Linked DNA regions of Homo sapiens: region 1 is linked to region 2. Evidence: fine-mapped expression QTL. Tissue or cell type: whole blood. Region 2 holds a variant in brackets; the other region holds the start of a gene. All regions are shown on one strand. Distances are between the middles of the regions.

Region 1 (8,091 bases), 120 kb before region 2:
GGGCGAGGGGGCTGAGGTATAATACTTCCCAGGGATGGAAGTCAGGATGCCGCTAAACTTTCTACAATGCACAGGACAGTTTCCAACACCAAAGAATTTTCCAGTCCAAAAAATGCCAGTAATGCTGAAGTCATGAAATCCTGTCCTAACTAACTATGGCAGCTGCAAGAGGCCTATGATTCTGCATTTCGTTTTTCTTTTTTTTTTTTTGAGACCAGGTCCTACTGTGTCACCCAGGTTGGAGTGCAGTGGCATGATCATGGCTCACTGCAGCCTCGACTTCCTGGGCTCAGGTGTTTCTCCCACCTCAGCCTCCTGAGTAGCTAGGACTACAAGTACACATCACCATGCCTGGTTAATTTTTTATTTTTCTGTAGAAACAGGGTCTCATCATGTTGCGCAGGCTGGTCTCGAACTCCTGGGCTCAAGCAATCCTCCCATCTCAGCCTCCCAAAGTGCTGGGATTACAGCACTTTGAGCCATTGTGCCCAGCCGATCCTGCATTTCTAGCAAGCTTCCAACGGATGCCATATATGGCTGGGCCCACGTTTTGAGTATCAGGGATAGAGGTACCTTTTACGTAGCACTTCTGTGTCCTAGGTACTGTCCTAAAGCATATATCTAGCCAAGAGGCAGCTCTCTCTATATTCCCTTTCGTTAATTCTCACCAAAATCAGCACCAAAATGGGGTCTACTATTATCCCCACTTTGATAATGAGGAAATTGAAGCACTGAGAAATTAAGAAACTTGCCCAGGCTGGGCGTGGTGGCTCACGCCTGTAATCCCAGCACTTTGGGTGACCAAGGCAGACAGATCACCTAAGGTCAGGAGTTCGAGATCAGCCTGGCCAACATGATGAAACCCCATCTCTACTAAAAATACAAAAAAGCCAGACATGGTGGCGGGCGCCTGTAATCCCTGCTACTCGGGAGGCTGAGGCAGGAGAATGGCTTCAACCTGGGAGATGGAGGTTGCAGTGAGCTAAGATTGCGCCACTACACTCCACCCTGGGTGACAGAGTGAGACTCTGTCTCAAAACAAGAAAAAAGAAACTCGCCTAAGATCACACAGCTATTAAGAGATAGAGCTGAGGCCGGGCACAGTGGCTCACGCCTGTAATCCCAGCAATTTGGGAAGCTAAGATGGGCGGATCACCTGAGGTCAGGAGTTCAAGACCAGCCAGGCCAACATGGTGAAACCCCATCTCTATTAAAAATACAAAAAATTAGCCAGGCGTGGTGGGAATTAGTCAGCTACTGGGAAGGCTGAGGCAGGAGAATCGCTTGAACCCAGGAGGTGGAGGTTGCAGCGAGCCGAGATCGTGCCATTGCACTCCAGCTTGGGCAACAAAAGCGAAACTCTGTCTAAAAAAAAAAAAAAAAAAGAGAGAACTGAGATTCAAACCCAGGCCAGATGGCTCCTGTTTGCTTTTAATCACCCCACTGTACTCCCTCATGGTACAAGAGTCTTGGTCCAAGGTCTCCATTTGCCCACTGGATTATTTCCTTATTAGACTAGATTCCTATTCCCCGCCCTTGAGTTGTTTGCAAAAAATGCATCAGTGGGGGAGGACAAAGACAGGGCATCCCTGATAAGATTCAGAGAACACCCTGCTGGCTCCAGTGTTCCCAAAGAACTTGCTGCAGATGTAACAAGATGTCACAGATTCTCAACACCTTACCGCCTCCTGCCCCGCCCAGGACTACAGAATCAGCATCTCTTCAGGTGGCACCAGAAATGTATACATTAATACATTCTATGCTTGTTAACAATCCAGCTCCTGTGGCTGGGATGCAGGAGTCCCCTCTCCCACGCTCTTCCCTTGAGCCTCAGGAGACAACTGACTGCAGGAATATAAACCCCAGGAATTCTCTTAAGAGAAGCCAGCGGCTGCGTGCCTCTCCCTGGAGGCCCTCCCTTACCTTCCTCATCCCCTGGAGGGTAGAGTTTCAGGAGGGATAGATCATCTGGGATAAGGCGAAGGCTGCTTTTAACCTGCAAAGACAAAGAAGGGAGAGGGGTCAGGCCCAAGTCCTTCCCCTACCGAAAGAAAAAATTGGGGGTAATTCTTCCCTGACACCCAGCTCCCAAATCCTCCCTAAGATCGTGGACACCTTGGCCCTCTCCTGGCAACCTAGAAGTCCAGCTTCCCCAGGATTCAGAATGGAAGTACCCTTCACCCTTTCCTCCATCTGCCTAAGACACTCTGAAATGTATGCTTCCTTGCCCTTTTTAACTAGGTTACTAGCCGCCCCTCTACCCCTGACTCTTAGGGACTCTCAGCCCATTGCTCACACGACCATCGGGGGACCCCAGCCTCTGGAGCCGCCCAGTCCTCTCTGAACCCGCATGGACCCCAACCCCCAATACTGCAGCTCCCTGGCTTCATTTGCCATGGACCCCAACCTCAAAATCCAACGGCCCCAGGTCCTCCCAGTCCCTCTCCAAAATCTCAGGAATCCCAGCTCTTCAGCCTCCCTGTGCCCCCAAGACTCTAGCTCCTAGGAATCCTAAACTTCCAACGCATCCCACCCTCCTTCACCACCCCAGTCTGCAGAAAGTCCCGGAGCCCTGCCTCTCCCTGCCTCCAACACCCTAACGCCCGAGGACCAGCCCCAGAACGCCAGCCTCAACACCCCTATAGCCCTACCCTCCCCGAACGCCGGCCCCTCCCTGGAGGCCAAGCCCTTGGCCCTTCCGCCGGTCCCCTCCCCGGGACCGGGCGCACCTTCCCCGAGTACACCGGAACCAGCGGCGCCTCCCCCGGATCCAGCACCAGCCGCCGCCGCCGCCTGACCGGCTCCCGCGGGGGTCCTGCGGGCCGCCTGTCCTCCCCTTCGCTGTCACTGTTGCTGTTATCCCGGGACGCGACCGGCCCCGGGGGCTCCGGGGGCTCCACCTCAACCTCGTCCGCGGCACCGCGAGCGGTGGCGACCTCCAGAATTTCCTCATCGCTGTCGGTGACCAAGTCCACAGACACTACGTCCAGCGTGCCCCGGGATGGAGACCGCTGGGCCCGAGGACGCCGGCCCCGACCGCCCCAGCCGCCCCGACCCCCTCGGCCGGCACCGCTACCTCCGGACCAGCGGCCCCGCTTCCCCACAGGCTCCGCCATGGCACACTTTCCTCCACAACACACGCCCGCCTCCTCTCGCCTCGCCCCGCCCCCTTCAGCGACTTTCGCCTTGCATTGGACAAACAGCCTGCTCGTCAGCAACTCTTCGCGCCCCACGCGCGGGATCCGCCTTCCCGCCTTTTCATTGGTCTCTGTACCCGCTCATCATGCGCCCACCTCTGAAACCAAGGCGCCAAAGATTCCAATCACCTCGGCACAATCACCGTAGCTTTCGATTCAGTCGGCCTCACCCATTGGCTGGGCCACCTCTCCACAGACGAGCCTCTCCCGGACCCGCCCAACCAAGACAACCGTCTTCCGGCTTGGTTAGTCGCAGGGCATCCTGGGAAATGTAGTCCTCGAGCGGTAAGGTTTCCGGGAGAAGGAAGGCGGGCCTGGAATTCCCTGTGGAAACCGCGGATTTAACCAGGCGCGGTGCCTCACGCCCGTAATCCTGGCACTTTGAAAGGCTGAGGCGGGCAGATTGGTTGAGCTCAGGAGTTTGAGACCAGCCTGGCCAATGTGGCGAAACCGCGTCTCTACTAAGAATGCAAAAATTACCCGGGCGTGGTGGCACCCCTCTGTGGTCCCAACTACTCAGGAGGCTGAGGTGGGAGTTTCGCTGGAGCCCGGGAGGCGGAGATCGCACCACTGCACCCCAGCCTGGGTGACAGGGCGAGACCCTGTCTCAAAAATGCTTTAAAGAAATAATAAGGCTGGCCGCGCGCGGTGGCTCACGCCTGTAATCCCAGCACTTTGGGAGGCCGAGGCAGGCGAATCACGAGGTCAGAAGTTCAAGACCAGCCTGGCCAACACGGTGAAACCCCGTCTCTACTAAAAATACAAAAATTAGGCGGGCGTGGTGGCGTGCGCCTGTAATCCCAGCTACTCAGGAGGCTGAGGCAGGAGAATTGCTTGAGCCCGGGAGGCAGAGGTTACAGTGAGCCAGATCCTGCCGCTGCACTCCAGCCTGGCCGACAGAGCGAGACTCTCTCTCAAAAAAAGAAAGAAAGATAGAAATAATAAGGCTGGGCGTGGTGGCTCACGCCTATAATCCAGCACTTTGGGAGGCCGAGGTGGGCAGATCACCTGAGGTCAGGAGTTCGAGACCAGCCTGACCAACATGGTAAAACCCTGTCTCTACTAAAATACAAAAATTAGACAGGCGTAGTGGCAGGCGCCTATAATCTCAGCTACTCGGGAGGCTGAGGCAGGAGAATCGCTGGAACCCAGGAGGCAGAGGTTGCACTGAGCCAAGATTGTACCACTGCACTCCAGCCTGGGCAACAGAGTGAGACTCCATCTCAAAAAAAAATCTTATGTATTTATTTATTTTTAAATTTTATTTTATTCATTTATTTAATTTTATTTATTTATTTATTTTGAGATGGAGTTTCGCTCTTATTGCCCAGGCTGGAGTGCAATGGCTCGATCTCGGTTCACTGCAACCTCTGCCTCCCAGATTCAAGCAATTCTCGTGCCTCAGTCTCCAAGTAGCTGGGATTGATTACAGGCGTGCACTACCATGCCCAGCTAATTTTGTATTTTTAGTGGAGATGGGGTCTCACCATGTTGGTCAGGCTGGTCTTGAACTCCTGACCTCAGGTGATCCACCCCCCTCCGCCCCCGCCTTGGCCTCCCAAAGTGCTGGGATTACAGGCGTGAGCCACTGCGCCCGACTATTTATTTTATTTTTTTCTTTTTCTTGATTCGGAGTTTTGCTCTGTTGCCCAGGCTGGAGTGCAATGGTGCGATCTCAGCTCATTGCAACCTCCACCTTCAGGGTTCAAAGGATTCTCTTGCCTCAGCTTCCCGAGTAGCTGGGATTACTGTTGCCTGCCACCTTGCCCAGCTAATTTTTGTATTTTTAGTAGAGACGGGGTTTCACCATGTTGCCCAGGCCGGTCTTGAACTCCTGACCTCAAGTGATCCACCTGGCTCGGCCTCCCAAAGTGCGGGGATTACAGGTGTGAGCCACAGCACCCAGCCTGGCATATGTAAATCTTCATGATGGCTACATAAGCCACTTGCCAGTCTCCAAATTCAGGAATTCAAGGACCTGGGAGCCCTGACGAAATGCCGTCGTCAAGGCAGTTAGCTCTCTTGTCTCCCATTTCCCCTAGGAGGGAAAAGCTTGGCTTCAGTCTTGCTCCAAGATGCAGGCTACCTCCTGTCCTAAAGATATGAAAAGTTTGTGTCTACTCACCCCTACCATACAAGCCAATTCAATAACACAGGTGGTCACCCCACTTACCATCATAAAGTTAGACTGGGGCCAGGCGTGGTGGCTCACGCCTGTAATCCCAGCACTTTGGGAGGCCGAGGCGGGTGGATCACTTGAGGTCAGGAGTTCGAGACCAGCCTGGCCAACATGGTGAAACCCCATCTCTACTAAAATACAAAACAAAATTAGCTGGGCATGGTGGTGTGCGCCTGTATTCCTAGCTACTTGGGAGGCTGAGGCAGGAGGATCAGTTGAACCCAGGAGGTGGAGGTTGCAGTGACCCGAGATCGAGCCATTGCCCTCCAGCCTGGGAGACAGAGCCAGACTCTGTTGCAAAAGAAAAAAAAAAAAGCCAGGCGCGATGGCCCATACCTGTAATCCCAGCACTTTGGGAGGCCAAGGCGGGCGGATGACAAGGTCCAGAGATTGAGACCATCCTGGCTAACACAGTGAAACCCTGTCTCTACTAAAAAATACAAAAAATTAGCTGGGCGTGGTGGCGGGCGCCTGTAGTCCCAGCTACTCGGGAGGCTGAGGCAGGAGCATGGCATGAACCCAGGAGGCGCAGGTTGCAGTGAGCCGAGATTGCACCACTGCACTCCAGCCTGGGCGACAGAGCGAGACTCCGTCTCAAAAAAAAAAAAAAAAAAAAAAGGCTGAACTATGTTTGACTAAAGGTGTTGTCACGTCCTCTTACGTGAGGACTAGTCATTGTTTATCTTGAAAACATGGTATTGCAACCACCCCTATAAACTTGAGAAGAAGGGAGAGGGAGAAATGAAAAGAAACCAAACTTGCGGTGCACTCAGCATTGATCTCAGGGCAGCTGCTCCCTGACCTGCTTCCCCAAAGCCATCTGGTGCCTGTTGCCCCACAGTCACACAGCCCCTGTCAGAAGATTATAGTTCCCCTTAACTGCTCTTGAATCACGGCTTGGACATTACATTAGGTGTTCCCTTTGAGATATTCCTTCAGGTCTTGATGGAACTACTGATTCAGCTGACCTGAAGGACCCCACAAGGAGCTGACTCCCCGCAAAATGCAGCTTCTACACCCTGACAATTTCATCCCCCTTCCCAACCAATCAATGACCCCAATATTCCAGCCCATCACTCCCCACAAACCCCTTAAAAGCCCAGCCCAGAACTCCCTGGAGAGAGATTTGAGGGTCTCCTCCCATCACCTCGCTCGGCACCCTGCAATCATTAAACTCTCTCTGCTGCATCCCCACCGTCTCAGAGTCACAGAGCTGTGACTGCACAGTGGGCATATGAACCTGCAGCTCCTGTAACAATATGGAATTTGAAATTTTATCTTGAAAACAGGATAATGGTTTACACCTGCTTGGCTGTAATGAAGGATATTTCTTTTTGCCTTTGCAATCTTTTACCAGATTGCCAGTGATGTGCATCACATTCTAACTTAATGCTTATTCAAGCCGGGTGCAGTGGCTCACGCCTCTAATCCCAGTACTTTGGGAGGCTGAGGTGGTTGGATCACCTGAGGTCAGGAGTTCGAGACCAGCCTGGCCAATATGGTGGTGTATTTTTCTACTAAAAATACAAAAAATTAGCCAGGCATTGTGGTGGGCACCTGTAATCCCAACTACTCCGGAGCCTGAGGCAGGAGGATCACTTGAACCCGGGAGGCAGAGGTTCCAGTGAGCTGAGATTGTGCCATTGCACTCCAGCATGGGCAACAAGAGTGAAACTCCATGTCAAAAAAGAAAGAAAAATTATGCTTATTCAATAATAAAACCAGCCCGGGCATGTTGGCTTATGCCTGTAATCCCAGCACTGGGAGCCTGAGGTGGGAGGATCACTTGAGGTCTAGGGTTCAAGGCCAGCCTGGGCAATATAGCAAGACCCTGTCTCTACAAAAAGTAATAATAATTAGTGGGTGTCGTGATGCACACCTGTAGTCCTAGCTACTTGGGAGGCTGATTGAGCCCAGGAGTTCAAGGCTGCAGTGAGCTATGATCTCACCACTTCACTCGAGCCTGGGCAACAGAGCAAGACCCTCTCTCTAAAAATAAATAAATACATACAATTTAAGGCCAGGCACAGTGGTTCACGTCTGTAATCCCAGCACTTTGGGAGGCCAAGGTGGGAGGATCACTTCAGGCTGAGCGTTAAGACCCGCCTAGGCAATATAGTAAAACCCCCAACTCTACGAAAAATAATAATACATTTTAAAACTTTTTTTTTTTTGAGATGGAGTTCCACTCTTGTTGCCCAGGCTGGAGTGCAGTGGCACAATCTTGGATCACTGCAACCTCCACCTCCCGGGTTCAAGCGATTCTCCTGCCTCAGCCTCCTGAGTAGCTGGGATTACAGACATGCGCCACCACGCCTGGCTAATTTTTTGTACTTTTAGTAGAGATGGAGTTTCACCATGTTGGTCAGGCTGGTCTCGAACTCCCAACCTCAGGTGAGCCGCCCGCCTCAGCCACCCAAAGTGCTGGGATTACAGGCGTGAGCCATCACGCCAGGCCCATTTTACAACTTTTTAACCAAAAATAATAATAAAACTGTTTTCTGTCTCTACTACCTTTGTGGAGAAGTTTGTTGGGTTTAGATATTTTGTTTCTTAATTATATTTCCCAAACACACTCGCCAACACCTCCTACCAACAATATTGTGCACCTCAGAGACTACACGCCCTCCACACATCCACAGCGTTGGCAACTCCTGCACAACATATATCCCAACACAACACAAACACGCCCCTTCAACACTTCACTCTTCCCAC
Region 2 (8,102 bases):
AGTAGGAGTAGGGATGGCGACCCTGGACACCCAGAGAAAAATGAGCAAAAACTATGTTCTACCTGGAAACCTGTCTTCACTTAGTGACCCCATATCACCAACACATCACCTGGAGAGCACCAAGATACTCACGTATAAGAAGAAAGACTGCTATCATAGGTAGTCTTCACACCGTAGTTCTCCTCATTGAACTTGAACATTTCATTGGGGTCCCATCCATTGGACTGGGGAGGGAGGAAGGTGGTTTTAAAACCCAGCAGGAAAAGCAACGACAAGTCACTTCCCTTCCATCAGGTTAAAAACTCCAAGATGTGAACAAATTGGCTGGGCACAGTGGCTGAAACCTGTAATCCCAGTACTTTGGGAAGCTGAGGCAGGAGGCTCTCCTGAGGCCAGGAGTTTAAGGCCAGACTGGGCAACACAGCAAGAGCTCATCTCTAGAAAAAAATAATGAAACAGCCGGGTGTGGTGGTGCATGCCTGGGGTCCTAGCTACTCGCTACTCAGGAGATTGAGGAGAGAGGATCACTTGAGCCCAGGAGTTTGAGGCTGCAGTGAATTATTATGGCACCACTGCGCTCTGGCCTGGGCGACTAGCTGGGCGTGGTGGCTCATGCCTGTAATCCCAGCACTTTGGGAGGTGGGTGGATCACCTGAGGTCAGGAGATCAACCTGACCAACATGGTGAAACCCCGTCTCTACTAAAAATAAAAAATTAGCCATCCGTGGTGGCGCATGCCTGCAGTCCTGGCTGAGGCAGAAGAATCGCTTGAACCTGGGAGGCAGAGGTTGCAGTGAGCTGAGATCGAGCCACTGCACTCCAGCCTCCAGCCTGAGTGACAGAGTGAGACCCTGTCTCCAAAAAAAACAAAAACAAAAACAAAAACAAACAACTACAACAAAAACCCGGGCAACAGAGCAAGCTCGTCTCAAAAATAAACGACAAAACAAGAGTGGAAAAAAAATTGGAACGTGGCTGGCAAAAGTAATCAACTAATAATTGTAATTAATAACTGCAATTTTTTTTTTTTTTTTGGAGACAAAGAGTTTCACTCTTGTTGCCCAGGCTGGAGTGCAATGGTGCGATCTTGGCTCACCGCAACCTCCGTCTCCTTGGGTTCAAGCGATTCTCCTGCCTCAACCTCACGAGTAGCTGGGATTACGGGCATGTGCCACCACGCCCAGCTAATTTTGTATTTTTAGTAGAGATGGGGCTTCTCCACGTTGGTCAGGCTAGTTCCAAACTCCCAACCTCAGGTGATCTGCCCGCCTTGGCCTCCCAAAGTGCTGGGATTACTGGTGTGAGCCACCGCGCCCGGCCTGCAACTGTTAATGATTACTAACAACTGCAGCAGAAATTATCAATAACTAGTAAACCTGAAAAGTCATAAGACCTAACAATTCTATTTCCAAGACATCCCAGAAAAATTCTGGCACATGTGCGTGGGGAATATATGTTCTAAAAGTCCAGCAAGGTACTATTTTTAGTAGCAAAATAATGGCAACCAAATGCAGATGATTAAGGAAAAGGACAAATACAATTTGCTGTGTACACGTGTGTGTGTATATTTGAAAACAGCACACAACAATAGAAGCAAAGAACTAGATCTACGTACAACCATGAGAAGTTCGAAAAGGCAAGAAAAGCAAATTCTTGTACAAACTAAACATAACAAAACAATAATATATTCATTCACAAGACATTTGTTTCTCAACAGATAGTCTCGCTATGATGCCCAGGCTGGAGCACAGTGGCCATTCACAAGTTGAGTCATAGTGCACCAAAGCTTCAAATGATTCTCCTACCTCAGCCTCCTGAGTAGCTGGGACTACAGGTGTGGGACCACCACGCTCAGCTCTATTCATGAGCGGTTTTTATTTATTTTTTTGAGACATCCTCACTGTCGCTCAGACTGGAGTCCAGTGGCACAATCTCAGCTTACAGCAGCCTCAAACTCCTGGGCTCAAGTGATCGGAGCTCCTGCCTTGGCCTCCCAAGTAGCTGGGACTACAGGCATGAGCCACTGCGCTCAGCCTCATGAGATTTTAAATGCCTCAGAGTAGCTGATTTTGGGAAGAGAAATGGGCCTACACATTAATCTATACTTTTTGTTATGTTGAAAAATAACGTGATGCAAATGCTAGGAGTGGTTAATTATAGATAGTAAGAGAGTAAGTTGATGTTTTGGTTTTGTTGCGTGTGACACGGTCCACCCAGGCTGGAGTGCAGTGGTATGATCACAGCTCACTGTAGCCTCGACCTCCCTGGGCTCAAGTGATCCTTCCACTTCAGCCTCCCAAGTAGCTGGGACTACAGGTACATGCCACCAAACCTTGATAGCTTTTATATATCTTGTTGAGACAGGGTTTCACCATGTTGCCCAGACTGGTCTCGAAATCCTTGCCTCAAGTGACCCACCGGCCTTGGCCTCCCAAAGTGCTGGGATTACAAACATGAGCCACTGCACCCAGCTAAGAATAGATATTTTTACTTTGCTATTTTCTATACCTTTCTATTTGTTATCTGACTACCATCAATGGGCAACAGTAAATATTTCCCTCCCCACTCAAATGAACCTCACTGTCAACAACCCATTCTGTCTGTCCAGCTCCCAAGTTCTCAGGGAAGGAGGCTATACCATGTCAGACTCGAGGTCATAGTCGTCGCTGTTGCTGTCACCCCCCTCCCAGCGCTGAAGCACCTTCTCTTTGTGTTCCCCATTCACTTTCGAGTTCATGGCAATGGCTGAATCGGTGAACTTGTCTGTGGGGGCAGAGGTGAAGATCAGGAGTCAGGCTATATTTCACAGACTTCTTTCCAATATCCCCCAACCCCACTCTCCGTAAGTAGTTCAGGAACAAAGTTTAAGAAGTCCAGAGTACGTGTGCCCGTGTGTTAGGATGGCCAGGGGGTGGGGAGGCAAGAGAAGAAGAGTATAAAAAGTCTATCAGTACTATGATTCCAAAGAAAAAAGAAGTTAAAAACCAAGCAAAGAAAATATGAAGAACCACAACACAGACAGGAATTCATCGCATTATATATTAGACATCAAGACATATTTTTAAGAAGAAAAATCCACCCACTTCGCTCAGGAAAAAAAAGGCATTAAAGCAAAACAAACAAACAAAAACAAAAAAACAAACCAAACACATCACCATGTTCCACCTGCACACAAACTACCCTCTGTCCTCTATGCACACAGAGCAGGTCTGAGGTAACAGCCTAGGACAATACCTTTAGTAGCATAGTTGAAGTCAACATTTCGGAAGTGAACAAGCATGACATCACTTGGCTTAAACACCATGGTGTCCACAATGTCCTCCCGACGAGGGCCACCTGCTGGCTCAGATGCTTTCCGGTGCACAGCATCCACGGCTAGTTCAAACTACAAACACCCCATTCCCCACACCCATGGGTCAGTTTCAAGAAAAGTGAAGGCAAAAATAGAACTGGATTTCTCTTAAATAGAACTGGATTTCTCTTACCCTTCCCAAACTTTTCACAACACTACATCCTCAACATGCTTGGAACCAAGTGCATTGTTTTCTCAACATCAGCCACAGGACTTAGCAAAAGTCTCACAAAAATTTAAACTTAAATATTTTAACAT[T/A]AAAGTACCCAGCCCTCAAATTTGTCTTTTTTCCCTGCAGCACTATTCAGCACAGGCCTACAGAAACAACTAAAGGCATACTCTGACATCACCCAATTGACACCTTCAATGAGCCTATTTCATTCTCCTCCTACTCTGCAACTCCAAAAATAATTAAATTTGAGTACACTGACCTTTGAGCTTAGCGTCTTGAAGATACCCTCATAAGTGGTACCATTTTTCACCTTTACATCACAAGTGGAGCCCTGGCAGAGTGGGAAAAATAAGAAGAGTGTCTCCAGAAAGTAGATGCATTACGTTCCTTAAACAACCCGGGGGTTAAGTACCAACTTACCACAACAGCTGTAAGGAAATGCAGCATTCTGGAATTGTTGTAGACGCCTTCAAACACCTGTCAGTTAACATAAGAGGGAGAATTAAAGGAGTAATCAGTCAACACCTCATTTTCTTTTCTAAATGCCCGCCGCACTCTACTCATTCTGCCTTGTGTGTGCCGGGCCCACAGCCCTCCTGAGTACATTAGACTCTATCTAGACCTAATGTGCCCTATATTCCCACATTATGCATCTTTTAGGTCTATGTATCTTAAACAGGGTGGGAGAAGACACTCACAGGTGACTGTGGGGGTCCCTTTCCTGTGCTCTGTCCCCTATAAAAGAAAACAAGAAATTACTTAAGTCTGTTCAAGCCCTCTTAGACCACTATGAAATTAATGTTAAATCCTAGAAGTATATACCACCTGATGATGCTGATTTAGACTACAAAATTGTTAATCAGTAAGATTTTTCTATTTTTTTTGAGACAGGGTCTCCCTCTGTTGCCCAGGCTGGGGTGCAGTGGCGTGATCTCAGTTCACTGTAGCCTCAACCTCCAAGGCTCAAGTGATCTTCCTGCCTCAGCCTCCCGAGTGGCTGAGACTATAGGTACGAACCACCACTCCTGGCTTTTTTTTTTTTTAATTTTTAGTAGAGATGGGATTTCCCATCTGTGTTGCCCAGGCTGGTATCGATCTCCTTGGGCTCAAGGGATCCTCCCACCTTTGCCTCCTAAAGTGCTGGCATTACAGGCGTGAGCCACTGCGCCCGGCCAATAAATAAGATTTTCAAACTGTCACCTTGTAGAGGAAGAAAAAAATAGACATTAATAAGCCAGCAAACACATTTCCTCCAAATGCCAGCAAAAAGATCTCAATCAACAATGGTTGTCAATTGCTCTAAGAACCAACGAGAAAGGGGCTAGGGCTGCAGGCTACCAACAGATCAATGCTACAGTATTAACCAAAAAGCCACGCCAGCTGTGAGGGCAAAAGCTCCAGGAGTGCAGCTTTGGAACTACCTAGCTCAGGTACATTACCTCCCAAACAGAAAAGACAATCATTTTCAGCAGCCTGACGCCTCAAAACTGTGGGAGGAGGGGTATCCCCTCCACACCCCATCCCCTCGACCTCATGACTCATTCAGCCCGTTACCCACTCTGCGGGGATCACCAATCGCCAGGTAACCCTGCTCGTCGCTGGCTGATGTAACCGGCGGTTGAGGGCGAAGAGGGGGCCGCTGGCGGGGCTGGGGGACAGCGCAGCCGCAAAAGCCATCCACCGGGAGGCCTCGCCCGGTCTGCGCCTGCGCACTAAAACCCACGGGACTTTCCGAACCCCCACCTCCAGCGATCAGAGCCCACTGCGCCTGCGTGTGCTGCCACTCTTAATTCCATTAACACACACACACTCGCACAGGAAAAACTGAGCAGGGCCTCCACTACTCATGCACTGCCACCAGACGAGCCCCTCCACGAACTAGTCCCTGCCCTAGGTGTTCCCGGGGCGCGCGAATGCCCGGGTCATGAGACCGAGCATCCACGCGCACGTACGGGAAGGGGGCGCGCGCGCCAGAGGCTCCCGGCCCGCAGTCCTCCCAGTCATCCCTCCTTCCGTCCCCCCGCCCACCTCGCTCCCCTCCTACTGGCCAGACCGGGAAGGGGGAGGCAGCAACCCGCTCCCAAGTCCCTCCCTCCCCATTGGCCAAACTGTGGGCCGCGCGCCCCCCTCCATTGGCTACGGCCGGGGACCCCTTCCCGCAGCAGACTCCCCATTGGCTGAAGCCGGGGACCGCGAGACCCTTCGTGGTAATGGAACCGGGGACCCCGATCAGCTCCTTGCCCCCCCCCAACTCCCCGTTCCGACGGCGCCGGCGGGATGCGCCCCGCCTCCCCTGAAGGCCGGGGCTGCGAGCCCTGACTAGGCCCCGAGAGCCGAGCGCGGCCCCTCAGTGCTCCGGTGGCCGCCCGGGGACCCTTTCCGTCCGACCTGTTCGGACCTGAGGGGGCCCTCCCCCAGCTTCACGGGGACTCCCCACCCAGCCGGTGCCCCTGACGGTGCCGGGTCGGGGTCCGCCCCACCGGAACCGAGCCACAGCCTCTGGGTGGCCGCGGCTCCCTCGCCCGGAGCCCACCCTTCTCACCTGGCGCTGCCGATGGCGGCTGCCCCCGGCCTCTCCTGGTGTTGCTGCGGCGGCGGCGGCTGCGGCGCCAAGATGCCTTCGGCTCCCCGGCGGAGCCCGCTCCCGGCAGCGGCCACAGGCCCCAGGCAGGGGGAGGCGGCCGCTGGAGGCCCGGGAGGAGCCGCAGAGGTGGCCAGCGGCCCCGGGAGGCCGCCGTTGGGAGGGCTGGTGCCCCCGGGGGGCCGACGGGCCACGGCCTGTTGCGTGGGGGGCGGCTGCTGGGGCTGGGAGGGCTGTTGTAGCGGCTGAGGCTTCAACATGATGGCAGCGTCCGGAAGGGGAATTAGAGAGAAGGGAGGGAGAGAGGGGGCCGGGGCTGGGGCCCCGCTGGAGAGCGCGGGAAGCGAGGGGGATCGGGCAGCCGGGGCCCGCCGTGGGCGGGCGGGGGGAGCCCCGCGGTGTCGGGGGTGGAGAGAGAAGACCGCGGCGCGAGGAAGCGCCGCGAGGCGGAAGGGGAGGGGGTCTCGCGGCTGGAGGAAAGCGAGAGGGCGCGAGCCGGGCTGGCGCGCGTGCGCGTCGCCGGGGAGCGGAGAGGGAGGAGCGCGCGGGTGGGAGCTCCCGGGGGGGGGGGGGGGGGGGGGGGGCCAGGAGCGAGCAGTGGCGCGAGGTGCCGCGCACACCGGCGCGGTTAGCTCCCGGCGGGAAAGTGGGAGAGAATCAAGTCGGTGAACCTCGCACCCCTAGCCCTGGGAGTGGGTAAGGAGCGGCGCGGGCGCTCACGCGCGCCAAGGATTTAGGGTCTTAAGGTCTCAAACCGCCTTAGAAGCCGGCGGCCGCTGTCGCTTCACAATGAGCGTGTGAGGCGCAGGGGGAGGAGCCGAAGGCGCCAGAGGAAGGGCCGGCCTCTCCGCCCACGCCGTCGCTGCGTCGCGATGCCTCCGCGGGAGTGTGAGGCGGCACGTCGTGCGTGAGGCTCTTCCGCCACTTGGCGGCCCGTGGGCAGAGCCTTAAGTGCCAAGAAAGTCTCCGGGACTGGACCACCCGAGCCACTGCGCTTTTAGGCAGGTGGTAGGTTTCGCAAGGAGCTACCCTCCACCTTGTTTGCTTTAAGTAAAAGACTGATGAGCATTAGTGATTCGTTTGAGCGTGTTGATCTTTGCAGATAAATTTACGCCTCGTCCTAAATTATTTCAGATTTTTGTGATTTTGACCTAAATTGTTCCTCCATGCCCGAGAATGAATCTTTAAACTGTAATAACAAAGACTGAAGGCCAAAGTTCCGAGTTCAAAATCCTCCACCCGACCCTGCAATGAAGGCAGCTTCATTCATTCAAAATGAGTTGGGCATTGGAGTATTCAGTTAGTTGTTTTGGACACAAGGATAATTAAACTGCTTCCTGCTCTGGAGGAGTTCATGCTAGTGGTGAATTCAGAGAATTTGACGAGATCTAGTAGGTGAAGCACAGAGGACTACAAGAGCAAATGGGAGTGACACCTAATCTTAATCCAGTTTTGGGAGACCCAGATAAGGGACAGGAGGGCCGGGCGCAGTGGCTCATACCTGTAATCCTAACATTTTGGGAGTCCGAGGCAGAAGGATCGTTTAAGGCCAGGAGTTTGAGACCAGCCTAGGCAACAAAGTGAGACTTTGTCTCTACAAAAAAAAAAAAATTTAAATTATAAAAAAAAACTGATAAGAGGGCAGGGGGAGATGGGTTTCTAGGCAGGGAAATAGGATATGACAAACTAAGAAAAACTCAGCTTGTCCTAAGCATAAAATTAAAGGGGGGAAGAGGTAGCTAATCTGGGATCAGGTTTTAAAGGCTCCCAAGTCTTGTAAGAGACACGGACATTATCCTCAAAGCAGTGGGGAGCTTATTTAAGAAAGTGAAAAGAGGCTGGGCATGGTCTGTAATCCCAGTACTTTGGGAGGTTTGAGGTCAGGAGTTTGAGATCAGCCTGGCCAACATGGTGAAACCCTGTCTCTACTAAAAATGCAAAAATTAGCTAGGCGTGGTGGTGCATGCCTGTAATCCCAGCTACTCAGGAGGCTGAGG

The links. PIP is the estimated chance that this variant, and not a neighbour inherited with it, causes the effect.
Region 1: NFATC2IP starts here. The variant in region 2 is fine-mapped to the expression of NFATC2IP in whole blood (INTERVAL, PIP above 0.99).

Annotation. Positions count from the first base shown.
Region 1 is chr16:28,946,037-28,954,127 of GRCh38, reverse strand. It overlaps NFATC2IP (nuclear factor of activated T cells 2 interacting protein), which reads right to left and starts at 3,191. Exons shown (of 8, transcript NM_032815.4): 1 at 2,730-3,191; 2 at 1,924-1,996. The coding sequence starts at 3,116. NFATC2IP-AS1 (NFATC2IP antisense RNA 1) reads left to right here. Exons shown (of 2, transcript NR_186408.1): 2 at 1-1,226. RefSeq lists silencers at 2,736-2,855, 2,996-3,095 and enhancers at 2,815-3,315, 3,335-3,869.
Region 2 is chr16:28,821,523-28,829,624 of GRCh38, reverse strand. ATXN2L (ataxin 2 like) reads right to left here and starts at 6,626. Exons shown (of 22, transcript NM_007245.4): 1 at 6,067-6,626; 2 at 4,223-4,259; 3 at 3,945-4,001; 4 at 3,784-3,855; 5 at 3,235-3,385; 6 at 2,639-2,763; 7 at 133-224. The coding sequence starts at 6,365. LOC124903672 (a long non-coding RNA gene) reads left to right here and starts at 5,583. Exons shown (of 2, transcript XR_007065042.1): 1 at 5,583-5,731. RefSeq lists a silencer at 5,420-6,569 and enhancers at 6,890-7,099, 6,611-7,347. The variant T/A (reference allele first, on the strand shown) is at 3,611.